4 linked regions of the Homo sapiens genome follow. The protein of the gene in region 3 interacts with the protein of the main gene of each other region in a pairwise test. Each region holds a gene or a part of one and is shown on either strand. Other genes may lie near its edges. The genes, in order: EFHC1, SPRED1, EIF4ENIF1 and TXLNA.

Region 1 (7,024 bases), on a different chromosome or scaffold from region 3:
CCCACAGCCAACATAATGCTGAATGGGGAAAAGTTGAAAGCATTCCCTCTGAGAACTGGGACAACATAAGGATGCCCACTCTCTCCACTCCTCTTCAGCACAGTACTAGAAGAAGTCCTAGGCAGAGCAATCAGACAACAGAAAGAAATAAAGGTCATCCAAATAGGTAAAGAAGTCAAACTGTCACTGTTCACTGATGATATGATTGTTTACCTGGAAAATCCTAAAGACTCCTCCAGAAAGCTCCTAGAACTGATAAAAGAATTCAGCGAAGTTTCTGGATACAAAATTAATATACACATATCAGTAGCTCTTCTTTACACCAACAGCGACCAAGCTGAGAATCAAATCAAGAACTCAACCCCTTTTACAATAGCTGAAAAACAAACAAACAAACAAAAACTTAGAAATATACATAACCAAGGAGGTGAAAGACCTCTACAAGGAAAACTACAAAACACTGCTGAAAGAAATAACAGATGACACAAATAATGAAACAAATAATGGAAACACATTCCATGCTGATAGGGTGGGAATCAACATTGTGAAAATGACCATACTGCCAAAAGCAATCTAAAAATTCAATGCAATTCCCATCAAAATACCACTATCATTCTTCACAGAATTAGAAAAAACAATCCTAAACTTCATATAGAACCTAAAAAGAGCCCGCATAGCCAAAGCAAGAATAAGCAAAAAGAATAAACCTGGAGGCATCACACTACCTGATTTCAAACTATACTATAAGACCATAGTTACCAAAACAGCATGGTACTGGTATAAAAATAGGCACATAGACCAATGGAATAGAACAGAGAGCCCAGAAATAAAGCCAAATACTTACAGCCAACTGATCTTTGACAAAGCAAACAAAAACATAAAGTGAGGAAAGGACACCCTATTCAACAAATTGTGCTGGGATAATTGGCAAGCCACAAGTAGGAGAATAAAACTGGATCCTCATCTCTCACCTTATATAAAAATCAACTCAAGATGGATCAAGGACTTAAATCTAAGACCTGAAACTATAAAAATTCTAGAAAATAACATTGGAAAACCTCTTCTAGACATTGGCTTAGGCAAGGGTTTCATGACCAAGAACCCAAAAGCAAATGCAATAAAAACAAAGATATATAGCTGGGACTTAATTAACCTAAAGAGCTTTTTCACGGCAAAAGGAACAGTCAACAGAGTAAACAGACAACCCACAGAGTGGGAAAAAATCTTCATAATCTATACATCTGACAAAAGATTAATATCCAGAATTTACAATGAACTCAAACAAATTAGCAAGGAAAAACAAAGAAGCCCATCAAAAAGTGGGCTAAGGACATGAATAGACAATTCTCAAAAGAAGATATACAAATGGCCAACAAACATATGAAAAAATGTTCAACATCACTAATGATCAGGGAAATGTAAATCAAAACCACAATGTGATATCATCTTAGTCCTGCAAGAATGGCCATAATCAAAACATCATAAAATATTAGATGTTGGTGTGGATGCAATGAACTGGGAACTGCTGGTGGGAATGTAAACTAGTACAACCACTATGGAAGATTCCTTAAAGAACTAAAAGTGTGAAGATTCCTCAAAGAACTAAAAGTAGAACCACCATTTGATCCAGCAATCCCACTACTGGGTATCTACCCATTGGAAAAGAACTCATCATACAAAAAAGATACTTGTACATGCATGTTTATAGCAGCACAATTTGCAACTGCAAAAATATGGAACCAACCCAAATACCCATCAATCAATAAGTGGACAAAGAAAATGTGATATATATGATGGAATACTATTTAGCCATAAAAAGGAATGAATTAATAGCATTCACAGTGACTTGGATGAGACTGGAGACTATTATTCTAAGTGAAGTAACTCAGGAATAGAAAACCAAACATTGTATGTTCTCACTCATAAGTGGTAGCTAAGGTATGAGGATGCAAAGGCATAAGAATGACACAATGAACTTTGGGGACTCAGGGGGAAAGGGTGGGAAGGGGGTGAGGGATAAAAGACTACAAATTGGGGGCACTGTATACTGCCTGGGTGATGGGTGCACCAAAATCTCACAAATCACCACTATAGAACTTACTCATGTAACCAAACACGACCTGTTCCCCAGTAACCTATGGAAATAAAAAAAATTGTTTTTAAAGTAGTGGGATAACATCAGCTTTCCCAGGTAGAATAAGAACTTGATTGTTACGTAGAAAGAAAAGAAAAATTATATTTAAATACTGTGTTTAAAAATATACTTTTCATGGAATTTTATAGCAGGCTGGGCTCCTGATTATCATGTATTCTAACCTTCTGAGTTTATAGACGAGGAAATTAGAGATTGTGACTACAAGGTCACAATGTTAGCTGGTAGGAGACCCAGAATTAGAATCCAGGTCTTCTAACTCCCAGGAAGTGCTCAGAATGCCACAATAAACATAAAAATATTTGTATTTACTTCAAGATGAAGGGGGGAAATGCTGCATAAATATTTTCATATCACACACAATTATAAAAAGCCAAGTCACATTTTTAATTTTACATTATTATAAGCATATATGGTACGTGTTTGACTTGCCAATTTTCAGCAGTGACACAGACAAGAAATAAATTTTGTTAATTATTCATGTCATTTTAGAACTGATATTTATTGAGCACTAAATATATAATAAACTATATAAGTCCTTACCTTCATGAAGTATACACTCAGGTGGGACAGATAAACACTAAACAAATCAGCAACACAAATTATAATATAGTGCTGCAAAGGGGAAAAAAAAAAAAGAGAGGGAAGTGATATAGAAAAATGAGGAGGAACTGCCATAGCAGAGTGGCCAGGAAAAGCCTCACTGAAAGGAAAGATGGAGTCAGCCACTTAAGGATGGTGGGGAAGCTATTTCAGATAGGAGAAATGCCATGTACAAAAAGGCCCTGAATTGGAATTTTCAAATGCTGCCATTTCAAGGAAATCAGTAAAAATAAATCCAATGTATTGAAACATGATAGGTGAGAAAAAGGACCCAAGATGAGGCTGGGGAGAGAGCAGGGAGGGCCAGCTCCAGTAGGGCTGTGAGGAACCTGTAGAGTTGGATCTTTATAGATGATAGGGAAGCCATGGAAGTGTTTCAGTCAGTATGTGACATAATCTGATTTTCAAAAAATAAGCCTGGCTGCTCTGTGGAAAATAAATTTATGGTAATAGTGAGGATGAAAATAAGTAAATGAATTAGTTACATATTTTAGAAGCAGAAACAATAGAACTTGCTAATAGATTAGATGTGGATTGTGAGGGGAAAGAAGAATGAAAGATGACTTTCATGTCACAGTGAGGTGAATGGTGGTAATGTTTACTGTATTGGTTAAGAAAGCCTGATGGCATTTTCCCAGAAAAATGACATAATCAGAGCTGAACTCTAGAGAATAAACAAGGCAGCATACCTGTTATAAGCATAAGGACTAGGAATGAGACTAAAACAACAGTTAGGTAGTCATTTGGCTTGTCTGAACTATGATAGTGGCAGAGGAAATGAAAGTGAGAGATATTTGACTTGGCAACTCATTAAGTGTGGAGGATAAAGGAGAGAAAAAGCCAAAGATGGCTCAGGTTTCAAGCTTGGATTACCTAGTGGAACCACACAGGGAAAGCAGATCTATGGGAAAAGGTGAGGGATAGAGATAAGTTAGAGACATACAGAACTTGAGGTACCAACAGTTCATCCAGGTGAAGATATCCCATGGGCCAGGGGGATACAGATCTGGAGTCTCAATGATGTCAGAGTTGGAACTAAATAGTGACATTCTCTACGGTGAGGTGACGGTTGAAATCACGAAAGTGGGTGAGATCTCAAGAAAATTATATAAAGAATGAGATAGAGCCTTGAAAATACTTGTAAGTTAAGAATTGAAAAGAGGAAGGGAGGCTAAAGAATAAGCAACCACATAGAAAGAAGGAGGAAAATGAGAGTCATGGAGGCAAAAGAAGAGCACAGTTTCAAGAAGGGAGGAAGGGTCAACAGTGTCAGATGGCATAAACAAGCCAAAGACAATGCTGGCAAAGTAAACCTCTCTAGATCTGGTAAAAGGACAGCACTGGCTACCTAGGAGAAAGTATTCTGGGGCTGTGGGTAGGGAGAAGTCAGATTGTAAGTGATTTGACAGTCAAGTGAGAAACAAAGTTATCTTGCTTAAAGGCATCACAAGGTATTATAGAAAGAGGACAGGATGATATGACTCTAGCTAGAGAAGCAGTCACTAGAGTGTCTGAAATAGAAATAATATGAAACTTGAAGATGAAAAAGATGAAAGAAGAACATCAGAAATAAAGAGCTGGAAGTCAGTCTGGGAAACACAATATAGTAGGTGATGCTGGAATTATACAGGAGCAAGGGGAAAAGATGAGGGCACTTGGAATAGATGTCCTGGTCTTTATTACCTAAGTAAGAAATGAAGTTATATTCTGTCTATGAGGAACAGTCCTAAGAATTTCCAAAATATAGACAAATATGTTGGCTATTATGTGGACCTCTGGGTATTAGAGGTCCTTCATTTAAAATTAGAACCTTCATTTAATTCAGAGAAACCATAATTCCCTTATTATAAACAAACAAACTTAGTTTCAAAGTCATGCATTTAGCTTCTCTCTACCCCATTATCTATGCTAAGGCTCATTTATCTAGAAATTGTGATGATCCAAGTAAAATGAATTGGAAAATAAAAATAATATTTTTATGTGCACTATCCTTAAAGAAATGAATTATGAATATTAAATAAGTACAAATTAAGTAACAACAATTAGTGTAAAATAACATAGAAAACAAAAAATAGGAAGCCTATTTCCTACTCAAGCGCAATTTCTCCTCTGAATTTTACTAATACTTTCTTACGACATATATCACTTTATCACCTTCTACTTTATAACAGTTACTTACTATTCTTTTCAGTAAAAATTAAACATACCAGGATTCATATCTTGGTAATTATTTAGTGCCTATCCCACTTCTCTCTTGTATTTTCAGCCCTCTCCCTTCTCTGCTGATTTTGCAATGTCTGTCAAAGCCACAAATAAACAAAAGAAACAAGCAAAAGGAAAAGATACATCCAATTATATAAATCATACTGTTTAGTGGATGTTTAGGTTCGGCCTATGAATGCATATGTGAATGTGTCCCTATAAATGAGTTAAGTGGGGAAGAGGAAATGATACAGATTCTAGTTGAGAGACTGAAATTGTTTAAAAATAAGTGACTATCATGTAAATGGCATAGCTCCTCCCCAGCCTCTAGCTTACAACAGGTACTCAATAAAAGTTGGCTGGCTGGATGAAAATGTTATAGACATTTAACAGGAATAATAAAATAAAAATTAAGACAAGAAAAGAAACAGACTAAGAGTAAATTAAGAAAGCTAACTTATCAAAACTGATCAGTACTTCTCAGAACCAGTTACACATAAAGCTCATCTGGAAATTAGAACTGATGAGGGTTGGAATAACGTAACTTTCTTAAAAATCTCGCCAGTGATTCTGCTACATGGTCAGGGCTAGGGCTACTTCACTTTAGTGAAAAGAGGAGGCTCATTGACAAGGAAAAACAAGAATGATGTGGTAATGTCAATAGATGGAAATGAGGAAACTCACATTGCAAAAACATAAAGATAAATGAGAAACAAACAAAAATGTTATACCACCCATTGGTTATGTAATATCAAACATGAAATGTTCCCTGAAAACCAAAAACTTATGGAGACTGCCTTGCAGAAAACTGACAATAGATGGAGTCATTGTTTTCATAATGATATTCTGCATCTCATGAAGATTAGATATGTCACCATTACAGAATACAGTTACCTTTAAAAAGTGGAGAACACACGGCTGATAAACATAGAATATAAATTCAAGAATTCAGAATTATAGCCAACTTTTCTTTAACTGCATTTGGAAAATAGTCTGGTGAAGTCTACAGGGAACTACTTTACTCCCTGTAATCAGCTTCCTGACTAAAGAAAGCCTCTTTTTAGCCTGAGTTCAGCTGTCCATGACTAAGGGTTAAGGCATCTGAACAATTTTCTCCTCAGAGCCCTTTGGAAATTCTGTGGTTTACTGTTTTAACTTTTTTGCAAGCAGTTGGCTCTCAGACCCTAATTCAAGGGGTACCCTAAAATTCCAGATGATACCTTTTTGTCAAAGGCCACATGCGCAGGAATAAAATCCGCAGGTGGGGCTTGTTTAGGTTGGCCATAAGTTAAGACTGGTGCCTTACTGGCCAACTCATCCAGCTCAGCCTGGGACAGCTGGTTGAACTGGAGCCGGTCTCCGCCTATCCCAACTGTTGGACGTCGAACAATTGCATAGCCGTTCCTGTAGCTCAGCGTCTGACTTCTGTGGAAGGCTGTTTTCTGAAGAAGAAAAGAATGTGTCATTAATAACATTAGACAAATATTTGTTAGGTAAAAAAAAAACTAACTTTTAAAAATATAACTTGAATCTTTGCTTATAAGCATCACAAAACTTACATCAAGAAGCTTACCAACATTAAGGCTGGGCATGGTGGCTCGTGCCTATAATCCCAGAACTCTGGGAGGCTGAAGAGGGAGAATCACTTCAGCCCCAGAGTTCGAGACCAGCCTGGGCAACAAGATGCTGTCTCTACAAAAACTAAAAAAAAAAAAAAAAAAAAAAAAAAATTAGCTGGGTGTGGTGGCTTGTGCCTATTATAGTCGGCTGAGGTGGAAGGATCACTTGAGCCTGGGAGGTCCAAGCTGCAATAAGCTATGATTGAACCACTGCACTCCAGCCTGGGCAACAGTGAGACTCTGTCTCAAAAAAACAAAACAAAACAAAAGCTTACCTACATTAAAAGATTCTGTATTTTAAGTTAAAACACTTGAACAAGAACAAGGAGCGAAGTAGCCACCTAAGCTTAAAGTAAAATTTAAAGCTGTGCTCTGTAATGCCCAATTTAACTACCAATTCACCTTGCATGAGAGATTAAAAGAGTATCTCATCTATACTCTTAAGTTT
Region 2 (7,142 bases), on a different chromosome or scaffold from region 3:
ATAGTCCCTACTGTAATTAAATCCCTATGAGCAATGGCTTTAAAAAAGAGAAAAGGGAAAAAAATGTAAGGCCCAAATAAAATCCATGTTACAGGGCAGTTTTAAACTGTGCTAAGGCCTTAATGGCTTCTGCCATGATACGTATCTTTCTTCATAATGACTATAAATAATAAATTTCCATTTCAAAACGGTTCACCTATTAAAGATGAGACATAAATTACTATATTAAAAGCTACATTCCAAATAAGTTCACTCTGTGGTTTATCTAATGCACAAGCAAACAATGCTGGCTCTAGTAAAACTGATTATCAGATGAACACATTATTTTCTAATATAATAGAGTTTTTTAAAGTAAAACCCCCAAGATTTTGTTCCCATGAAGAGTTTACCAAAATATTATGCTAAATATTATTATCGCCCTGCCCAAACTTAAAAAGTATTACAAAGCTCCTAGGGAATAATTTATTAATAAAGCAGGATAAATTTGTGAAAAAACGATTTTAAAAGTCTGGGTGAGTGAGATAATTTCCAAGTTGTCCCATACTAAGTACATTTAGATGAAAAAAAAATATTTAAAGCAATCCTCTCACTGAAGATTGCCATCGGTGTTTCAAATATCAACATCTTGGGGATTAAATCACTGGGAGTATTTTCTCAATTTACTGTAATAGCAGTGGAACGCACTATCACTATACAAAAAAACCTGTTGTCTCAATTTATTTATGGCAAGTATTTAAAAAAATGGCCATTTAGAAAAAATATATTTTACTTGTGTTAATTCACATTCCATCATCTGCTTTTTTTATTAGCTGCAACCAGAAGGAAACAAGGAGATATTCACTGCTTTAAGAAAAAAATTAAACTGGTAAGAAGTCTTTTCCCATCTCTAAAAGAAAACTTAACATTTTTAATCCAAACTTTTTGAAAGATACCAATAAAAGTTACCGTCATTCGGTTCAGCATTTTTAGCAGTTCTTCTCCTAAATAACCATTATCTGAGATAGACTTCTTGATCTCCCTCAAAGTAGGTCTAATCTGCAGAAGGCAGGGAGAGACTGTACTGCACTCTGAATGGACAGCCAGGTATTTTATGAATGGAGGCGATCACGTGATCCCAGCACCTCCCCGAACTGATATTTCCCACATAACTGTGTCAACATTCTCAGAACAGGGGTAGTTGTTTGTGTGTGCGTATGTTTTTAAATTTAACCTAAAATTTCACATTCTTCTTACCTTCTGAACTCAAAAATCTACACACAGACAAATAAGCCGCGAATTTTTTTTCTTGGGAAATCCTTTCAAGATGTCCAAGGTGATGGATGTTTAATTATTTTTTTTATGAATGAAGAGTGTGCTATGCAAATGAGGGCGATTCACAAAAAGAGACAGAACATGGCTGCCACTTCTGCTTCTACACTGCACTGACACTGCAGCAATGTACCTCCTTCTACACCCGCTCAGCAGAAGCGTGTGTTTTGGGGTGGGGAGGGAGTAAGGGAGGAGGAAATGTTGTTTGGCCTTTCTCTAGCTATTTTACGTTAAACAGGACTCGGTACAGACTTTAAAAAGTTATTTCAAAAAGGTCTGACTTTAGTAATGCACTGTATTTAAAGGAATGCATCCAAATGACTAAGTCCTAACTCACTTAACTCTTTCCAACCCTCCGAAGATAAACAAAAGTTGAACTTAATTACAAGAAAACGGATGCTAATATTCTGCTTGGAATTAAATCCCTTCTCAATAGAAAAGTGTTGCCAACCATTATTTCTCCACGCAGCTGTCACGTTAAAGCAAAACATTTAAAAGACGAAGTATTTCGTTTGGAAAGCAAGGAGAAAGCCCAAATAAGCTAAAACTTAAACCGGAATGCTCTAAAAGTTAATGAAATCACCAACATATTCAGCAATGTAAATTCGGTTACATCAACGTAAATCATGTGTTTTCACATAGCTGAAAGGTAAAAATTAGCATTCAAAATTCTTCTCCGTTCCTGAAGACACGTCCAATATTCACAAAGGTAAACTCTAGCTCAACATCGCCCACACTCCAGGTGTCCTTAATCCTATTAAATTCTAAAAATGTTTCCCTAACCCTATTTTTTACAAGAATCTTACAGGTCATAAGTTTAAAAGGGGGAGGGGGGAGAGGGTGAAGGCTTAATCGGTATTTAAGAGTCACTGACTCATCGAATTAAGATTCAAGAGCAGTTTGCTGCAGGAGGTGCTCCCACACATTAGTTTCCAAGTGAAACAGCTATAAAGGAAGTAGGATGGATACTGAAGGTATGGTGACTGGTATGTGAGTGAAAAAGGACGGGACAGGGGTCTCACAGGCAAAGGGGTAGTTTCTACTCCACTTCCATCCATCCACATTATTCCCTCTCATAGACGTACAATTGCCATCCTCTCCCAACACTTAATCCCCTACCCCAAAAGAAAGCAGCTAAATGTGGGAGGATGGGGAGGGGTGCTGCCACTAAAAATGGCTAAAGAAATCAGCTATCTCCAGAAGATGCACCGAACTCTCCAGGGTCGCAAGCTTTCCGGCACCCAAGTTTCGGATGGGTCTGGGGGAGAGCCGAGGGCGGATAGGGGGAGGGGGATTAGCAATCGAGATCAATGAGGCGCTTACTCGTTGTCAGAAGTCGCCGTCTCCTCGCTCATCTTTCCCTCACCGTGATCCGATCTGGAGATGGAGGAGCAACAGCAGGCGGGGGAGCAACAGCAGCACCGAGGGGCAGGAGGCAGCGGCGGCCGGGGGGGCGCGGGGGCAGCGGCACAGGGGCCTCACCATGGTGGATGCCTCACCCAGAACGGTACCCCCCCAGCCGGGAACCCCGGCCACCCCCGCAGGGGGGTGGCGGCAGCAACCTCCGCCGTGGCGACCCCAGCCTCTTCCCCCGCCTCAGTGCCCAGCCAAGGGATCCGAGGAGGCCCGGTGGAAAGGGAAAAAGAGAGGGGCTGCAAAGGCTGACTGGAGAGCTGCTCCTCCAGCCACTGGGGTGGAGCGCAGCGGGGTCCGGCCAGGAAGGAGTCGGCGGGCGGAGAACCCGGGAGCAGAGGCGGCGCTTCCCTCAGGGATGCGGCGAGGAGGAAGCAGAGCTCCGCTCGGTGGGGGCCGGCGGGGGGGTGCCGAGCCCAGGCTCCGGGCAGCGGCGGCGCGGTCCTGCCGGAGCCCACCCCACCATCTCCCGCCTCGCCGCCGGCTGCCCCTCAACCCCCGGCGGCGTCTGGGTCGGTCCTCAGGCGCCGGCAGAGCAGGGCTAGGGGCCCCGCGGCGGCGGATTCCTCCAGACACGCTCCAGCCGGGACTCCTCCTCAGGGGGGTGGAGGGGGCGGCGGGGAGCGTGTGAGGCGAGGGGCAGGCAAACCGATCGTTCCCACCCGGCCGGAGAAGAGCGGGCGGGCCCGGGTCCGGGGGGCAGGATCCCGAGAAGCGGCGGGAGAGGACAAGAGCGGCTGCAGGTTCCCCGCCAGCCAGTGCCCACCAGCAGCTCAGCGGGCCAGCTCCTCACGCCCGAGAGAGGGGAGCCGCGAGGGGGGCGGCGGAAGCGCTCACGCCGCCCGCTCCTTCCGCCGCCGCAGCCGCTGCCCGAACCGGGGGCGCCCGCGAGAGAAGGAGGCGAAGTAGTCCCTCGCGACTTCTCCCGGCCGCCCGCTTTCCCCGGAGGCCAGAGCGGGCGCGGGGTGGGGCTGCCGAGCGGGGTGCCCAGGCTGTGAGGGTGTGTGGGTAGGACTAAAAGCCGCGGCCTCCGGGCGAATCACTGCAACTCGAAGTCATGTGCAGCATAGCAAGTTTCAGGAAAGTAGTTCCCTCCTCCCTTCATTTCCCAAATCGTTGTCGAGCCACTTAGCGGAGAAAGGGGGAGGGAGGCGGAGGGATATCCTCCCTGCACCGTGCTCGGTGTGCGTGCGCGCGCTCCAAACTCTTGGCACGCCGCGAAAGGGGGCGGGGGTGGGAGCTGCGAGGGGAGCTGCTAGGGAGGTTGCATTGTTGTGGCGCGTTACTCCCCGTTACTCTGCTTGGAATATCCGGGTTGCTTGAACGAAGAGGCTAGAAAGACAGTGTGCTCAGAGGGGAAATCTGGAGGCTACTCTCTTCTGCCGTGTGTGTGTGTGTGTGTGTGTGTGTGTGTGTGTGTGTGTGTGTGTTTTCTTTGCAGAGCAAAGAATGGAACTGGCATGAGTTCATCTTTAGTTAGTGGGGGTTAGAAGCAGGGACTGCAAAGAGAGCTCCTCCTGCTGTCCCCCTGGTTGCACTGCTGCAGTCCCCTAGCTGCATGCACGAAGTGTATGTGTGTGTGTGTGTGTGTGTGTGTGTGTGTGAGAGAGAGAGAGAGAGAATATGAGAATGTATGTGTGTTTTAACACCTCGCCTCGCTGCCTGGATTCTTACTGCGCAAGGGGTATGCTATCAGGGCATTCATCTCGGAAAGCTGGAGTGATTGTTAATGGAGAACGACTTCCATTGAAGCCCAGGGTAGGCGTGTTACATGAATCTGGCGCAGCCAGAACGGAGGAAATAACTCCCGCTGCGAGTGAGGTTGCATAACTATAGCGCAGGAGATGCTTCTGTGGCACGAACTGCTCTGAACGGAGGCGGACCGATTGGATAGACAGCTGTCACGAATGCATTGTTAGAAGACAAAGTATGCATTCATCTCAAAAGATTTTTGCACAGAAACCTACTGGGGTTGCGGGCTGGAGCCTAAGGTCAGCCCAGCCACAGGAGTCAGAGCTCCTGGCTCTGCAAATTCTATTATCTGTTCTCCACTTAGAAAACCAGCCTGTACATGAACCACCTTAGGGGACTGAATCCCAAGTGCTCCCAAGTTCCTGACGCATCTTCCCAGATATAAGTCTCGCCCTGCGTGCAATGTTTTTCTCTTCCTTCTCAGATTTGTGCGACCTAAGAATGAAGGTTGCCGCTGGTGCCACATTAAAGAGAACAATTCCCGAGGAAAAAAAGAAGTTGGGAGAACCTCGTTAACAAGGCAGCACTCCTCTTCTACCATCCCTCTCCAGGAATCGCAGGATTGTTGTTCTGAGAATGAGCGTGCACAGTAGTGCACTGTTAACAGTGTTTTGCACGTAGCAGGTGCTTAATAAATGTTTGACGAATGAACAGAGGCGCTAAACCAGTCAATGTACCCAAAAAACCATCCCATTGATTTCTGAGGTCTCTTTATGTAACTTGATTCCTGCCTCAGCAGCAGCATTGTCCTTACTCTTGAGAAAGAGAGGGGCAATGTTGATGATGGTCTGTGCTAGACATGACCTCTAAACCTGCCTTTTTGAACTTATTCTTGCCAAGAACTTATACATGGGAGTGTTGATACTGGCCTCTTCCCCTTCCAGGACTACTGTTAACCAGTTAGGCTGCTCAAGTTTCAGTCAAGTACCATCAGTTATAATCTGTGTTCTTATCCAAGTTACTGAAACTCTGGGCCTGCATAAAATGGGGATAATAGTACTTAACTTACACAGCTGTTGTGCTGATGAACGAGATAATAATATACAGAGTTACTTAGAACAGATTAAGAATTCACAGTAAGAATAAGTCCTAGTTCTTACTACTGTTTTGTCAGAGATAGTAATAAACTTCATGGCAAAATAGTGGCAGATGCTCTGAGGATTAAATGTAAAGCATTCAATATTCTTGTTCATGCATTCAACAAATAACTATCAGTTGCTAGACACATGGCCTGGTCCTTAGTAAGCCATTAATAAATGAAACTATCACAGTTATTATGATTAAGTAAATAGAAGGAAAGTCGGTCATTTGCAAAGGCCTTTATCTTTTGAAGATTTGCATCTGTTTGAGGTTCTAGTGTATCAAGGAAATTGTCAGTATAGTCTTTGGAAGAATCTTGGTTGTCATGAGCCAGGCACTGTGCTGGCTATTTCCACATTCCACATACACCACACACTGCTTACATAAAGGGAGCAAGATGTGATCAATAGCCCAAATTAATGCTTTAAAGATTGCTCTCAACTCCACGACCAAGACATAGTCAGCAAACCATCCACAGCCTTTGGTGGTCCTATGCCATTTCTAGAACACTTTTGTGCCCTTTTTTCAACAACGCATTTGTAGTTCTCTCACCCAGTTGTTAAAGATCTCACCAACTTTTTAAAAATTTGCTTTGGTTTAGCAGAGCTCAGAGTCTTCTACTCTGAAGCAGTCAGAAATGGTGCTACTGCTCAGAGCCAAGGGATCTTCTAGTCTGACTGTCAATCACTGGCTGCTCTATACTCAGGAGGCCTCGACTTATCTATCCGGGTGTCTGGACCTTAAGAGTAAAGAGACGTACCAACCAAAGACAATGTGTGAGATCTTATTTGGATCGTGACTTAAATATTTTTAAATTTGGGACAACTGGAGAGATTTGAACATTAACTGGAGATTTGATGAAAACAAGGAATTTTTTTTAAGTATTGGTTTATGGCAACATTTTCTTCAAGTCCTTACCTTTCAGAGATATGTACTAAAATATTTACAGATGAAACGTTATGCTTCAGAATAATCCACTGGGGTGAGGAGTAGGAAGAATGGGTAAGGATATAGATGAAACAAGATTGGTTATAGATTAATGATGAATACATTCTCTTTACTATTTTATAATTTAAAATGTTCTATAATAATTTTTTTAAAATACACTGCAAGTACTTAAAATGCAGATTCCTAGACCCCAGCTCAGAAATTGTGATCACTAGGTCTATGATGGGGCCATGCTTTTGTAAGTATGCCAGGTGCTTGGCCCTTTTTAGTCCTTCATCATCTACTCCCCCTTTCCTTAAAACCATTTTTGTCATCCTGTCTCCCAGCACATCCGTGATTGAAAGCTGTGTTCCAGCTAAACACAAAAAAGGGTGGCCAGTGGTATATCATAAGCTTAGATAGACACTGGTCAAGGCCAGAGGGATAGTTCAGTTAGGAAAGGGGATCCAGCCAGATGTGAGAAGCTAAATACAGATCACAGTTTTGTCTTAAGCTCCAACTCCATTCAGTTGGTACTAATCAAGAAGAATTCTATGGCCACATTCGGGCTCAGCAAGAAAGGAGATACTTATATTTGCTCAGTTGTGTTTTCTAGGTAGCCCTGTGGGAAGGAAGCTAGTCACAATAGCTGGTTATCACAA
Region 3 (7,024 bases):
CATTTCAGGACATCCCTATGCCCATTTAGCTCTGTGTGAAGTGCTTTCTCTGGTGTAGTTTCCCTTCCACTAGATGGAGCTGTCAAAGTCCAAAGCAGTGTCTAGGCATGACAAATAGCTCAAGAATACCCAAGTATTTTATTGTTGATTTTGGAACTGGGACTAAAGGCAGATGATTTTATAAGTAATCTCTTTAAGAGTCATTTACTTCCATCTAATAAAAACAAATAGACAACTTTATACTGCATGGCTTATTATACTTGGAGGATAGAATCTATAATTTAAAACAGAATTTAGATTGAACCAGCATGTATTATTTTTGGATGAACCAATATGACAACCTAAATGGATGGAGGCAGATCAGAAATAGTATACAAAACATACACAGCAGTAGTAATTAAAGACACCGAATTCAAAAAGTAAACCATGACTTAACAACATGCAAATTGAGCAATATTTTGAGATAACACCTGCTATTCTTACTCCATTACTTTCCTTGTTGTATTCTTTCCTGCTAGCTGAGTTTGTCTTAGCCTTTGCCTAGCCACTTGAATGTGTCATCCATCCGTTTGGCAGGTGTTTGAGGCTCATTTGCTCAGCTAAAACCAGATACACTTCTGAGTGCTAAAACCCCAACATCAAACCAACTGCCCTTACAACTCGAGTAAATTGTGTTAATATCAAATCCTAGAATCATATCTGCAATAAAATGTGGAAAAACATCAGGTAAACTGCTGAATGCCCCCTTCCATATTTTTAGTTGCTCACACCAAAAGAAAGAAGCTAATTATAAGATATGAACCACACCATTGCAGTCAGCACCCAATCACCAAGACACAAATGTAACGAGAAAGGAAAATAGGATAGTCTACCATCTTTCAGTCTGATCTTCATTTGAAAGCATTTGTATCTAATAATTCTTTGTATAAAAGTAACTCTAAAGCAGTTTTACAGGGACATTCTCCTGCAACTGGTATGGTGTGGTCAGATACAAAGAAGTCAGTCTACCTATCTGAGGTGCCTCCTTTCAAGTGTAGGTCAGTCCTGGCACTAAGGAATAATGGAACCTCTGTCTGTCCTATTGGTCAGATAAGGAATGCTAAAAGTCAGTTGCTTTCTTTTGGTATAAGACATAATGATTCAAACAGCTATTGCTACTTGCATCTTGGCTAACTGGTAAGTTCCCAGGCAAGCAGGGAACAGGAAAAAAAGAGAGAAAACTCAATTTGGTAAATTTGCTATAACTTAGCAACTAGAATAAGTCCATGTTTATGTTTTTATTATTCATATCTACCCTGCTTCCACATTAGTTTGTATCAAGAGATAGTGATATTAACACATAGGCTATGGGTAAGAACTACCCTCTCAAAATTGTTAGGACAAAGAACCAGTATATTATAAACATTTGCATTTACAAGGTGATATGCAGTTGTGTCACCTTGTAACCTAACTTCATGCCTACAAGTTTTGTTTTTAACTTGGAGCCACAACTTTTTCCATTAGTAAATTGACAGAATGTAATTATCCTGACAAACCCATCTTACTTTTTTTTTTTTTTTTTGGAGACAGTCTCACTCTGTTGCCCAGCCTGGAGTGCAGTGGCGTGACCTCGGCTCACTGCAACTTTCATTTCCCAGGTTCAAGCAGTTCTCTTGTCTTGGCCTCCCAAGTAGCTGAGATTACAGGCGCATGCCCCCACGCCTGGCTAATTTTTATTTTTAGTAGAGATGGCGTTTCACCATGTTGGCCAGGCTGGTCTCAAACTCCTGACTTCAGGTGATCTGCCTGCCTCAGCCTCCCAAAGTGCTGGGATTACACGCGTGAGCCACTGTGCTCAGCCCCATCTTAGATACTTTACAAATGATTTGTATGACTGCAAGAATGCAGGTAATCCCTGGTATCTGGGAATAATTAGAAGATGTGAATAAAGATTTTACTATACAAATATGGTAAAGAATATGAACTTAAGTAGCTGAATAACAAGAAAATTGTCTCTGGAGTTCATCCAAAAAGATAGTTTTATACCTCATTTTAGCAGTGACTTAAAGTTATACAGGCATTACCATTAAGACTGAATCTTTTAATCTTTATACTGTCACCCACAATACATATAAATTAACCACAAGCCTGCTTTTTCCAGTAACAAATAGCATATCAATAATTAAGGAACACACAAAAGCATCAAGGACCAAATGACTACTAAAGAATTTCCAACTTACTCAGAATACCTTTTTAAAAATCCTTTTATTGTGGTGGGAAAAAGAAGAAAAAAAAAGGAGAAAAGGGTGGGGGGTTTGTGTCAGATACTTACGCTGACTTTGGGCTGAGAAGGCAAAGTCCCACTTGCCTTCATTGTGCTCACTAGCTTGTTGAACGCAGTCATGTCTCCGTCTTTCTTCAGTTGTCGATTGTTGGTTACGGCACTCAAGGTCTCTTCTAGGTGTTCTGCCATGAAGGGAGTTGAATTCTTCACTTGCTGGTCAACCTTCAAGCCCTTCAGACCTGCTTCTACCTCCTCCACTGAAAGCACAACCCCTGAATGTGCTGAGAAGTTGAGAACGTCCAGGTTAAATCAAGCAAAGAGATATCTGGTAGGAATTCTCTTTGGCTAGTATGACAGATAAGATGAAAATAATTTATTTCAAAATTGAGATGAGACTGTCAGAAAAGACTGACACCAAAAATAAACTAATAACACTTAAAATCAAATTGTGTACTAAGAGATGGCATAAACTAAACCTAAAATGTTTAGATGCTAGAAACTGGGGGACCACAACTATGAAGTGCTATTCTTTAAAACTTGACAAGCTCCTGCTGTGCATCCTGCAGAAGGATATGAGTCTTCTGGGAGACTTGTTACCTGGGACAAGAATCCCAGATAGCCCAACATTGCCAAGATTGCTGCCTGCACCGTGGTCATTATATCACTAAGTTTTTATGTTGAGAATTTATAGCCTAAGCAAGAACATGGAAGACTAGGGCAGATTTGTGAGGAAATGGTAAGTTATGCTCTGGAGGAATAAAACATTCACTGGAGTTTGTTTTCAACATTCACTGGATTATTACAACCAGACCCTAGGTAAGAACTTACAGGAAAAGTTCTCATAGGGCTCATGACCCACTGTGAGATTCTCAAAGAGGTGGTATTGTTTGATGAAATGAGTTTTTAAAAAAGAACATTAAACAAAAACCCAATATATATTTGACTTTTTATGAAACAGAGGTTATGTTAGACCCAACTGCCTGAAGACTGAACATCTAGACCTTTTCAGATATCTAAAACAGATATTCATAAACACTTACAGCTTTCTTTAAGTTTTTCTTTATTTGCAGAAAGGCTGGAAAGAAGAGGTTTCAAATCCACTTTGGCTTTCTGTAGCATTTCTAAAATATCCACTTTATTTTCAGCATGGTCTTCCAATGGTATAGGAGCAAAGTAATTCCCCGAGTTCTGTCCAGGAGAGAGGATGGCTTGCTCCAGACCTGATATTGCAAATAAACATACTCAAAATTAATCTGTTCCAGTAAAGAAACATGCCTTCGACAGTATTTTTCTTTCTTTCTTTTTTTTTTTTTTTTTCTTTGAGATGGAGTTTCGCTTTTTCGCCCAGGCTGGAGTGCAGTGGCGCAATCTCGGCTCACTGCAACCTCCGCCTGCCAGTTTCAAGCGATTCTCCTGCCTCAGCCTCCTGAGTAGCTGGGACTACAGATGCCCGCCACCACGCCTGGCTGATTTTTGTATTTTTAGTAGAGATGGGGGTTTCACCATGTTGGCCAGGCTGGTCTCAAACTCCTAACCTTGTGATCTGCCTGCCTTGGCCTCCCAAAGTGCTGGGATTACAGGCGTGAGCCACTGCACCCGGCCCCTTCAACAATATTAAAAGGACACAAATTGAAGGCTTTTCAGTTGTCCAGAGACCCTTTGACCCTAATTGACTCCTGACTAATGAAGATAAAATGAACCATATCAGGGAAAAACCCAGGTTTACCTTCAAGGGCAGAATCTGAAGCCATTTTACCTGCAAGTCTCTCTAGCTCTTCATGTGGTGTTGACCCAAGACTGCTGGATCGGCTTCCTGATCTGCTCGGGTTAGAGAACCACCTACTGAACCGACTGGCAGAGACTGACCCTTCTCCCAAAACATCTTCTATCATCTGAAGAAAAAGACAATAAAAACTAATAGTTTCTAGATGAAAAAGGACAAGAAGGTTTAAATCTTATGAAAGGGTCACTTACTTTGAAACTTCCTTTCATGCTCGTGACCTGAAGATAAATACTCTCAGAACCTAGGAATTTGAACACCTTTTTCTTCCTCCATCCTGGGTAATTTCTGAATAACCCAAACTTGAGTATAACCATCTACTTACTTTCCTTTTTTATTTTTTATTACTTTTTTTTTTTTTTTTTTGAGACAGAGTCTCGCTCTGTCACCCAGGCTGGAGTGCAGTGGCACGATCTCGGCTCACTGCAAGCTCCGCCTCCCGGGTTCACACCATTCTCCTGCCTCAGCCTCCTGAGTAGCTGGGACTACAGGCGCCTGCCACCACGCCCGGCTAATTTTTTGTATTTTTAGTAGAGACGGGGTTTTACCGTGTTAGCCAGGATGGTCTCGATCTCCTGACCTTGTGATCCGCCCGCCTTGGCCTCCCAAAGTGCTGGGATTACAAGCATGAGCCACCACACCCGGTCTACTATTTTTTTAAGACAGTCTCGCTCTGTTGCCCAGGCTGAAGTGCAGGGGTGCAATCTTGGCTCACTGCAACCTCTGCCTCCCAGGTTCAAGTGATTCTTATGCCTCAGGCTCTCGAGTAGCTGGGACTACAGGCATACGCCACCATATGCCTGGCTATTTTTAATTTTATTTTTAGTAGAGATGGGTTTTTACCATGTTGGCCAGGCTTGTCTCGAACTTCTGACCTCAAATGATCCACCTGCCTTGGCCTCCCAAAGTGCTGGGATTACAGGCATGAACCACCACTACTTTCTAAGAATATAAAGCAAAGCCTCTATGCTACAAAAAGGTTTTTGGGTTTCTATCCTTTGCCTCAGGAGTAAATCCACGTACTACCAAATGTTCTCAGAGAACAGTGTCAATGCCACAGCATTCCACTGACAAGCTGATGAGTGACCTTCAACTAAATATCAAGTATGGGGAACTGATGAAAGAAAACCATTGCTTCAAACTTAGTGGTTTCAAGGTTGTAATGAACATTATGAAATTCAATCTTGAGAGTTTCAGAAGCCAAAGGCTAAAAAAGCAGAGCTCATAAAGACTGTAATTCCAAGTCAAAGTTTAGAAAAAGTATGATTGTGGAAGATGAAATTTCAACTGATCTCTAATTTCTGTTTGAGATTAATAGAGAGTTTTCAGGTGTTTTCTGTTTCCAAATCCAACCTCCATAGTTTACATTTAATAAGGACAATTAAATAACACACTATGAACAATAAATTGCTTTGGTAGAAATTATGAAATAGTGCCAATCTTTCTTAAAAACTAGATTTAAGCATTTAAAAAATTTTTCAATTCAAATCATACCATAAATTCAGTCAAATATCCAAATTGATTTTTTGCAGTATTCTTATCAATATTTAGAAAAGACAAGATAGAGCAAACATCTATCCAAAAATCAGACATATCCTTGAAAATAAGTCATATACTTTCACGTCAATCCCACTGATAAACAGAAAACATGCTTTTTCAAAAACTGGTACATGGATGACAGAATTAGTGACTGTTTTATTTGAAATCTGGAACCCACAGTTTCCAAAGTTAAGCAGGGGAAGCTTAGATTTATTCTTTGTTCTTATCTGGAAGAATGTTTTCATAATCCATACCCAAATTAAGCCACAATATACTTCTTTTGAAGGGATTTTAATTCAAGACCCTAATTATTGTTTCCAGAATTTCTATTTTCAGAGGAATTATCTAGACAATTTCAATCACATTCCACCTGTAGATGCTCATACCTTAAATAATGCTGACTTTTAAGTGCACTAATTTTGTATTAATTAAAATATAAGATAAGCATGATACATCACTGTGAAAAATTGGGGAGTGTATCCAAAATATAAGCATCTTAGTGATAAACAGGAATTCTAAAAATAACTTTAAAAAGCCAGGTGCGGTGGCTCACGCCTGTAATCCCAGCACTTTGGGAGACCAAGACAGGAGGATCACAAGGTCAGGAGTTCAAGACCCGTCTGGCCAACATAGTGAAACCCCATCTCTACTAAAAATACAAAAATTAGCTGGGCATGGTGGCACACACCTGTGATCCCAACTACTCAGGAGGCTGAGGCAGAAGAATCGCTTGAACCCAGGAGACGGAGGTTGCAATGAGCCAAGATCGTGCCACTGCACTTCAGCCTGGGTGACAGAGTAAGATTCCAACTCAAAAAAAAAAAAACAACAAAAAAAGAATTTTTAGTCTAACACCACCAGCTTAAAAAAGAGTTAACTGGTACAAAAATCTCATATTATCCATTAAGCCTCTCAAAACAAAGCCAACAAAAATTTAAATATGTAAGAATAAAAGCCAAAAACCCCAAAAGCATCTAGCAAAACAACACTTTCAAACCGATGTCTTAAATACTCAGGTCAAATTTAACCACACATTTTTTAAGTGTGCTGCTACACTCACCGAAGCCAAGCATGGCACCTTATCAAGGTTAAAGAACTCATTAAAGTCAAAGTCTCCTGGGGACTGCTCAGGCAAGACAGCATCCCTTGGCACTTCCTGATCAGCCGCAGGCTCCTGTGCAAGGATGACCTCCACTTCATCCTCTTCGGCCACTCCTCCATTGCACTCTACTATACCTGAAAGCAAAACCAGGACAAAAACCGTCTGATAAGTAAATCACTCCAGTGTCCCTCTGTGGCTTCAGCCATCAGTATACATGTAGAAGAGCCACACATGACTTAAAAAGCAGACTTCTCGTGCAGGTACTGTACTTGCAAGAATAAAACAGTCCCCCTTCTACGGGAGGCAGAAAAGGAAAAAAGCCTTAATAAAGCTAGAATAC
Region 4 (7,753 bases), on a different chromosome or scaffold from region 3:
TATGTTTTCTGTTTGAGCTTTTTCATTCTTTTGTTAAGCCAACAAGTTGAGAATTTGGCCCTGCTGGGATCCATGTAGTGGGCACTAGCTGCTCTTTGGCCAAGGCCTTCATAAATGATTCAGTCTCTCATTATCTGTCCTCTAGCCCCACACCCTGATTTAGACCGTGGCAAAGGAAGAACTTGAGGTCAAGACCAACCAAATCTGTGAATTAAAGCTGTTATTTTTTTCTCTGCAAGGGCGCTTTGCTTCAGGTCTGGGCTATGTGCAGAACCTAAGCAGGCTGTGAGAGTTAGAAGAGGCAGTATTACATGTTAGGCCCAGAACACCATGGGAAAAGGTTTATGTAGTGTATCTTAGTGGCCTGCCTAGCTGCCTCTGGGCCAGGCTGACTTCTGATGTCCACATTAGCTCGTACCTGAACCCTGTTGCTGAATGCCAGCCCTGTTCTCCTGTAACTATTATATACGCCATGGCCTGGGGGGCATTGAAGGAAGTAAGCTCTCAGAGATCCTAACACTGGCTGGGAACCTCTGACTCAGAGCATGTCTTTAAAGAGTCCACATCTGGCCAGGCGCGGTGGCACATGCCTGTAATCCCAGCACTTTGGGAGGCCGAGGCGGGTGGATCACGAGGTCAGGAGTTTGAGACCAGCCTGGCAACATAGTGAAACCCCATCTCTAATAAAAATACAAAAAATTAGCTGGGCGTGGTGGCAGGCGCCTGTAATCCCAGCTACTTGGGAGGCTGAGACAGGAGAATCACTTGAACCCAGGAGGCGGAGGTTGCAGTGAGCCAAGATCATGCCACTGCACTCCAGCTTGGGTGACAGTGCGAGACTCCATCTCAAAAAAAAAAAAAAAAAAAAAATCCACATCTTCAGCTGGGCGCGGTGGCTCATGCCTGTAATCCTAGCACTTTGGGAGGCTGAGGCGGGCAGATCACTTGAGGTTAGGGGTTCAAAACCAGCCTGACCAACATAGTAAAACCCCGTCCCTACAAAAATAAAAAAATAAAAAAAATAAGCCAGGTGTGGTGGTGGGCACCTGTGATCTCAGCTACGTGGGAGGCTGAGGCAGGAGAATCTCTTGAACCTAGGAGGCAGAGGTTGCAGTGAGCCAAGATTGTGCCAGCCTGGGCGACAGGGTGAGGCTCTTGTCTCAAAAAAAAAAGTCCACATCTTCATGAACCCTCAGACTCTGGAGTTGGGTGTCGGCTTTTTTAGCCAGCTTTTGTGGGAATTGCCTTTGACCTATTAAAGAAGGAAAGTGGGTAATGGAGTCCCAGCCACTCAAGAGACTGGATATCCCCCGAGAATGGCTTGGGTTACCAGCTATGGACCCTTGGAAGATGAATCTAATCCTTCTCACTGGTTTTTCTTTGCAAATTCATTTGCTTTTATTTTTCTAATAACAATAAACTCTATTTTCCATGTTCTCAGGGCCCCTGGGTAGACAGACACAGCTTGATTTCAGAGCAGACATAGGCGAAGAAAACATGGCATTGAGTGTGCTGAGTCCAGACAAATGTTATTTATATACACATCCAAATTTGAAGAGAAAATGTATTTCTTTAGGTTTCAAACACTGTAATAGATATAAAGCAAAAATAAAAACCTGTTGCAAAGTTCTAAATTGTCTTCTTTGGCTTGGAGTGACCCTAGACTGGATTTGGGGGAAGAGAATGAGGAGGTGTTTAAATTTGTAGCTTAACAGTGGAAATAAGAGTTGTACCAACCTGCACCTGCTCTAAAGTTTTTTTCATCGACTTTATTGAAATATAATTGACATACAATAAACTGTACATATTTAAAGTATATACACGTTGATAAATTGAAACACATATGCACCCATAAAACAACCACAAGATAGTGAATATATCTATGACCTTCATAAGCCGTAAGCTTCCCGCTTGAGAATCCCTCCTTTCTGCCCCACCTCCAGCAACCACTGATCTGTGGCTGTCACTGTAGTTTAGTTTGCATTTTCTAGAGTTTCTCTAAATGATTTTGACTTAGTTTCATCAGCACCACTCTACAGCCCTTTGAACCTTTTTTTTTTTTTTGAAACGGAGTTTTTTATTCTTGGCATCCAGGCTGGAGTACAATGGCGTGATCTCGGTTCACTGCAACCTCTGCCTCCTGGGTTCAAGCGATTCTCCTGCCTCAGCCTCCCAAATAGCTGGGATTACAGGTGCCCGCCACCACGCCCAGCTAATTTTTGTATTTTTAGTAGAGACGGGGTTTCACGTTGGCCAGGCTGGTCTTGAACTCTTGACCTCAGGTGATCCGCCTGCCTCCGCCTCCCAAAGTGCTGGGATTACAGGCATGAGCCATCGTGCCCAGCCTGAACCTCTTAAGATCAAATAGTTCACAGACTCCTCCCTTCAGTTTAGATAATTCCTAAAGCAGAGATTACAGACAAGCAGCCAGAAAGTTGATTGAACCCACAGGAAGGTTTTGCTTGGCAGAGCGTGTTTAAGTTTGAATTAGTTGCCAACATTTTTTTTTTAAATCAAATGTCTGTCTTGAAAAAGACTGTCCTGAAGTCTCCATTTTTAAAAAGAGGCCAAGCACTGTGGCTCATGCCTGTAATCCCAACCCTTTGGGAGGCCAAGGTAGGAGGATCACTTGAGGCCAGGAGTTCAAGACCAGCCTGGGCAGCAAAGTGAGATCTGTCTCTACAAAAAAATTTAAAAGTTAGCTGGCTGTGGTGGCACATACCTGTAATCCTAGCTACTTGGGAGGCTGGGGCAAGGGGATCACTTGAGTCCAGGTGGTCGAGTCTGCAGTGAGCTATTATGATCACTGCACTCCAGCCCCAGCAGCTGAGTAAAACCTGTCTAAAAAACAAAAATACAATCTGGCCCTACCCGGCCTGAGTTTCTGCTTGCTAACAATGTGCAAGAGCTGCTGTATTTTACTGCAATCACCACCTCTCCCTCACTCTGGCAGGTGCTAATATTGTTGCTATATATTGTTTATAGCAAAGGAGAAAGTAACTTGTTAACCTATGTTTCTGTCAATTATTCTTGCCTGTTCTCATTACCCAACTGGCCCCTCTAGGCTATTGTTGACCCTTCTACTACATCCTCTATCCCTCACCCCATGCATACATTTTTATGTTCTTTATCTCACCTAGAACACCCTTGTTATATGGAAATCTATCAAGGCCTGATTTATATGGTGCCTTCTCAAGAGATTTCCAGAATGCTTTTCTAGAAATAATCAGGGCCTTGGTTTCAGGACATCTAGATTCCAACCTTTCTGAGCCTCAGTTCCATCATTATACTAAAAATTGAATATCTCTTATCCAACATGCTTGGGACCAGAAGTGTTTCCAATTTGGGATTTTCTCAAATTTTACCGGTTGAGCTTCCCCAATCTGAAAATCTGAAATCCAACATGCACGGCTCTGAAGTCTTTCACTGAGCCTTTGGGGGAAATATTTAACATCCTAACAGCCCTAAACCAACGCTCAATTAGCACAACAGTTTACAATCTTCTCTACCCACAGCCTGATGCGAGGCTCTGGGACTAGACTATTTAGCCAACAGTTCTTGCAAAATTAACTGACTTATAAGTAAATAGTAATTTCAACACCTCACTGCTAATGCTGTAACAACTCTGCAGACCTAGGGAGCAAGTACGGTTTGCAGAGCACTGGGAAGGCTCTGAAGTGACCTTTGAACTGGGCCTCAAAAAATTTTGGGTTTGGCAAAAGTCAAATCTCTTAGGCTTCAAATTCCAGGCACAAGGATTGTTGGGTTTGATTTCATTATCCAGAAGCAATGGGGATACAGAATTGTGATCTCATGTGTAGGGAACTGTGGGGGTTTTTTCTACTTTAACCCCAGTGAGACTTTGTAGAGTGTGGGGTAGAGAAAAGGCTCATGAATATGCCTGAAGCCTAACTCAGCACCTTTCTGAGGAACTGACTGCCAAAATGGTAATGGAGAGGGGAAAATATGACCTACTTTCACAAGTTACCTTGACTGCCTCAGGGAAACCTGCTGTGGTAGTGTTTCTTCTGGGTGAAAGACCAGGTAATTACCTGGGTGCTGGTCTCAGACTTACCAGTTTTGAATCCCTGTTTTAACCACTCACTATCGATATGACCTTGGATAAGTTACCTAACCTTTCTCTTACTGTCCTTTTCCGTAAAATGGGGATAACAGATAGTAGTTATTTCTATGAGTGGTTATGAGAACCAAGCTATTAGATAGCGGGAAAGCACACAGTAAGCGTTCAAGGAACTGCTATTGTTATTAAAAGCCTCCTTTGGAAGAAGGACATTGAGGCCCAGAGAGAGAACAGAACGTCCAGCCACACAGCAAATCCGTGATGAAGTTGGGACTGGAGTATGGGTCTCCTGAGTCTCAGCCCAGGACTCTATCCCTCTTCCCGAGTCCTCGGAGTTCCCGGATGGAGTCACATTTGTTCACGGCCAGGGAGGAAGGTTTGATGGAGGCCTGCAGGAAACAACAGCCAGGCGCAAGGCTTTGGGAGTTGAAGCATAGCTTCTGCGAGATAGAAACAAGGTTGACATGGGCACTCGTGCAGAATGACGGGCTCCTTTTGGACTCCCAGGACTACAGTCCCTTATGCACCTTGGGATCTGCGGCTAGCCCCTGCGTAAAGAGGGACGCGTAGTCTTTTCCCTGCCCCGCCCTGCCGGGGCGCCCGCCTCCGAGGCCGCCCTCGCTTCGTCCTTCCCAGCAAGCTCCGCGCCGGCGCCGGCTATTGATTGGCTGAGGCGGGAGCAGGCGGCTGGCCGGCAGCAGTTACTCGGGGTTTCCGGTGCGAGGCCAGAGGTGGGGAAGCCATCGGACGTCGGCGGTGAGGTACGTGCAGCGGCGGCCGGTGGGCGAGACTATTTGAGAGTGTGCGGGCCGGGATGTTCTCGGCCTGTGGGGAAATCACGCCAACTCCCCGCGTGGGCCGGGGGCTGTCTGGGGATATGCGCATGCGCGGGCGTGCCTCGCGGCTTGAGGGCGCGCGGGGCGTGGGTGGCTGCGCGCGCGGGGGGCGCACGTGGGGCCTGAGGGGCGGGGGCGGTGCCGGGAGTCCCGCCACGTCAGTCTCCGGCCCTGAGCCAATCCCGCGCCCGGCCTGCCGCGAGGGGGCCGGTTGTGCCGGGAAGTGGCTCCAGGGAGAAGAGGCCTCTTCCCTCACCCGCTGTGGGAGCTGCGCCCCGAAAGCCTGCCCCGGCACGTCGGGCTCTCCTGACCCGCCAAGACCAGAGAGCCGTTGGCGCCCTCCGCCCGGGCCTGCCGGTCCGTTTATTTTAAGAAGCTTTGTGCGCCTGCTGTGGGGATTTCTGATCCAGGCTGCGAAGAATTTCGAAGTCTGGAAAATAGCAACTGTGTTTGTTTCTAAAGGATCTTCTCCTGACCCAGCATCGCTCATCACAATGAAGAACCAAGACAAAAAGAACGGGGCTGCCAAACAATCCAATCCAAAAAGCAGCCCAGGACAACCGGAAGCAGGACCCGAGGGAGCCCAGGAGCGGCCCAGCCAGGCGGCTCCTGCAGTAGAAGCAGAAGGTCCCGGCAGCAGCCAGGCTCCTCGGAAGCCGGAGGGTGTGTGCCAGCTCTGCGTTGCCAGCGGGCAGGGGGAGGAGCTGTGGGGTCGGCCTCGCTTCTGGACTTACAGGCCGAGGCCAGGTTGTCCGGGAGGAGGAGATGTAGAATGAGAGGACAGTGCTGGGGGCCGCGGTCCCCCCTGCGCTCTGGCGAGTTGGCGGAGCTGCCCCCTCTAAGCACAGGAACAGAGTTCTGGAGAGAAGCTCCGACGGGATTAAGTCAGGTGGCAGCCAAACGAGGCACCCAGTCAGGAAATCCAGGTCCCGTTAGAAACACCTCAGCCACCAGCAGCTAACTGCCCTTCCTGTTTGAGGCATTTCTAGAATGATCTGAATGGCAAGAAATGGTTTTGTGGGGGGGAAGGAGATGGACTAGAAGTTGCTCCGTGCCATCCCTGTGTGCTGATGCTTTACATACTTTTATGATCTAACAAATATGTTCGGGTGGTAGTGAGAAATAGTTGTGTCATTTTACAAGTAAACAGACTTAAAGAAGTTAGGCAACGATTACTATAATTTCTTGATTTAAAAGATGTTTCGAATCTAAATTCTGACAGGAACTAGATTTGCTGAATGATACTCCATTCTTGCTTCTCAGTTTCCATAAAAAAAAAAGTTAGGCAACATTTAACTCAAACTGATGAGTTTGGCTGGGCCTGAAAAATCCCAACCAGTGGTATAATCGTCTTCTTTCTCACTCTACCCCTCATCCTCTCCTGCTGTAGGGGCTCAAGCCAGAACGGCTCAGTCTGGGGCCCTTCGTGATGTCTCTGAGGAGCTGAGCCGCCAACTGGAAGACATACTGAGCACATACTGTGTGGACAATAACCAGGGGGGCCCCGGCGAGGATGGGGCACAGGGTGAGCCGGCTGAACCCGAAGATGCAGAGAAGTCCCGGACCTATGTGGCAAGGAATGGGGAGCCTGAACCAACTCCAGTAGTCAATGGAGAGAAGGAACCCTCCAAGGGGGATCCAAACACAGAAGAGATCCGGCAGAGTGACGAGGTCGGAGACCGAGACCATCGAAGGCCACAGGAGAAGAAAAAAGCCAAGGGTTTGGGTGAGCAGAGGGCGGCTCTTTGTGAAGCTGGTGAGGAGAGGGAGTTTGGACTTGACGTTCTCTGGGCCAGTCTGTTCTGCCAGGATTCAAAGGAAAACGGTACTTCTCAGAGCAGCAAGTCACTCTAGTCTAATCAAAGCCAGGGATGTGGGGGCCACGGCATAGAGAGATGCAGGAGTTACCAGCACAAAGCCTTCTGGGTTTTGGAGCAACTGGAGCTTGGCATGGGACCTGTTCTCTCTTTGAGAAAATGGAGACGGGAGGCTAGGGTAGGCTCCTGTGCCAGCCAGTACTACCTGCTGTGTGACCTTGGGTGTGTCCCTTCTCCTCTCTGGGTCTTAGTTTATATTTCTCTTTACAGTAAGAAAATTAGACTAGGCCAGAGTTGAAAACCCAAATATCTGCATAAGCTGGGCTGGCCATGGGGCCACCTGAAGATGGAGGCTTTACTGCTTCCTGATTAGTTGCTCTCAGCTAGCCAACTGAGAGCAGGCAAAACTACAGGCTGGGTGCAGTCAGGCTTTTTTTTTTTTTTTTTTTTTTTAAATAAAGAAAAGCCAGAAATCTAGAGTTATGTGAGAACTCTAGATTTTTTCATAGTTAGCAGCTAAAATGGTAAGAGCCAAACAAAACCCATCCGTGGGTTGGATTTGGCACACATGCCTGCGAATTGCAGTCTCCATGCTGATCTCTTGGGCCCTTCTGGGGAGGCAGAGGGAAGGCTCCCTGACTCAGTCACAGGCAATGGGGAATAGGCAGTGACAGTCATTTTACAGCAGGGTATGTATGTTTAAGAGTCTAGGCCGGGTGTGGTGGCTCACGCCTGTAATTGCAGCACTTTGGGAGGCCGAGGCGGGTGGATCACCTGAGGGTCAGGAGTTCGAGAACAGCCTGGCCAACATGATGAAATCCCGTCTCTACTAAAAATACAAAAATTAGCTGGACATGCTGGCACACGCCTGTAATCCCAGCTACTTGGGAGGCTGAGGCAGGAGAATGGCTTGAACCCGGGAGGCAGAGGTTGCAGTGAACTGAGATTGTGCCACTACATCCAGCCTGGGTGACAAGAGTGAAACTCTGTCTCAAAAAAAAAAAAAAAGAATCTAGAAT

The links.
Region 1: the proteins of EIF4ENIF1 (region 3) and EFHC1 interact in binary tests that used the Homo sapiens proteins (3 or more experiments, as listed by UniProt).
Region 2: the proteins of EIF4ENIF1 (region 3) and SPRED1 interact in binary tests that used the Homo sapiens proteins (3 or more experiments, as listed by UniProt).
Region 4: the proteins of EIF4ENIF1 (region 3) and TXLNA interact in binary tests that used the Homo sapiens proteins (3 or more experiments, as listed by UniProt).

Annotation. Positions count from the first base shown.
Region 1 is NC_000006.12:52,423,321-52,430,344, reverse strand, and holds part of EFHC1 (EF-hand domain-containing protein 1), read right to left. Parts: intron 6,659-7,024; exon of another isoform or gene 6,537-6,658; coding exon of another isoform or gene 6,531-6,536; intron 6,400-6,530; coding exon 6,178-6,399; intron 1-6,177. UniProt on the Homo sapiens protein: Microtubule inner protein (MIP) part of the dynein-decorated doublet microtubules (DMTs) in cilia axoneme, which is required for motile cilia beating.
Region 2 is NC_000015.10:38,248,707-38,255,848, reverse strand, and holds the start of SPRED1 (sprouty-related, EVH1 domain-containing protein 1), read right to left. Parts: upstream 3,014-7,142; 5' UTR 2,664-3,013; coding exon 2,632-2,663; intron 1,065-2,631; exon of another isoform or gene 946-1,064; intron 1-945. UniProt on the Homo sapiens protein: Tyrosine kinase substrate that inhibits growth-factor-mediated activation of MAP kinase. Negatively regulates hematopoiesis of bone marrow.
Region 3 is NC_000022.11:31,451,833-31,458,856, forward strand, and holds part of EIF4ENIF1 (eukaryotic translation initiation factor 4E transporter), read right to left. Parts: intron 6,819-7,024; coding exon 6,643-6,818; intron 4,156-6,642; coding exon 4,020-4,155; intron 3,484-4,019; coding exon 3,304-3,483; intron 2,545-3,303; coding exon 2,312-2,544; intron 1-2,311. UniProt on the Homo sapiens protein: EIF4E-binding protein that regulates translation and stability of mRNAs in processing bodies (P-bodies). Plays a key role in P-bodies to coordinate the storage of translationally inactive mRNAs in the cytoplasm and prevent their degradation.
Region 4 is NC_000001.11:32,174,935-32,182,687, forward strand, and holds the start of TXLNA (alpha-taxilin), read left to right. Parts: upstream 1-4,740; 5' UTR 4,741-4,842; intron 4,843-5,130; exon of another isoform or gene 5,131-5,379; 5' UTR 5,380-5,411; coding exon 5,412-5,580; intron 5,581-6,307; coding exon 6,308-6,643; coding exon of another isoform or gene 6,644-6,742; intron 6,743-7,753. UniProt on the Homo sapiens protein: May be involved in intracellular vesicle traffic and potentially in calcium-dependent exocytosis in neuroendocrine cells.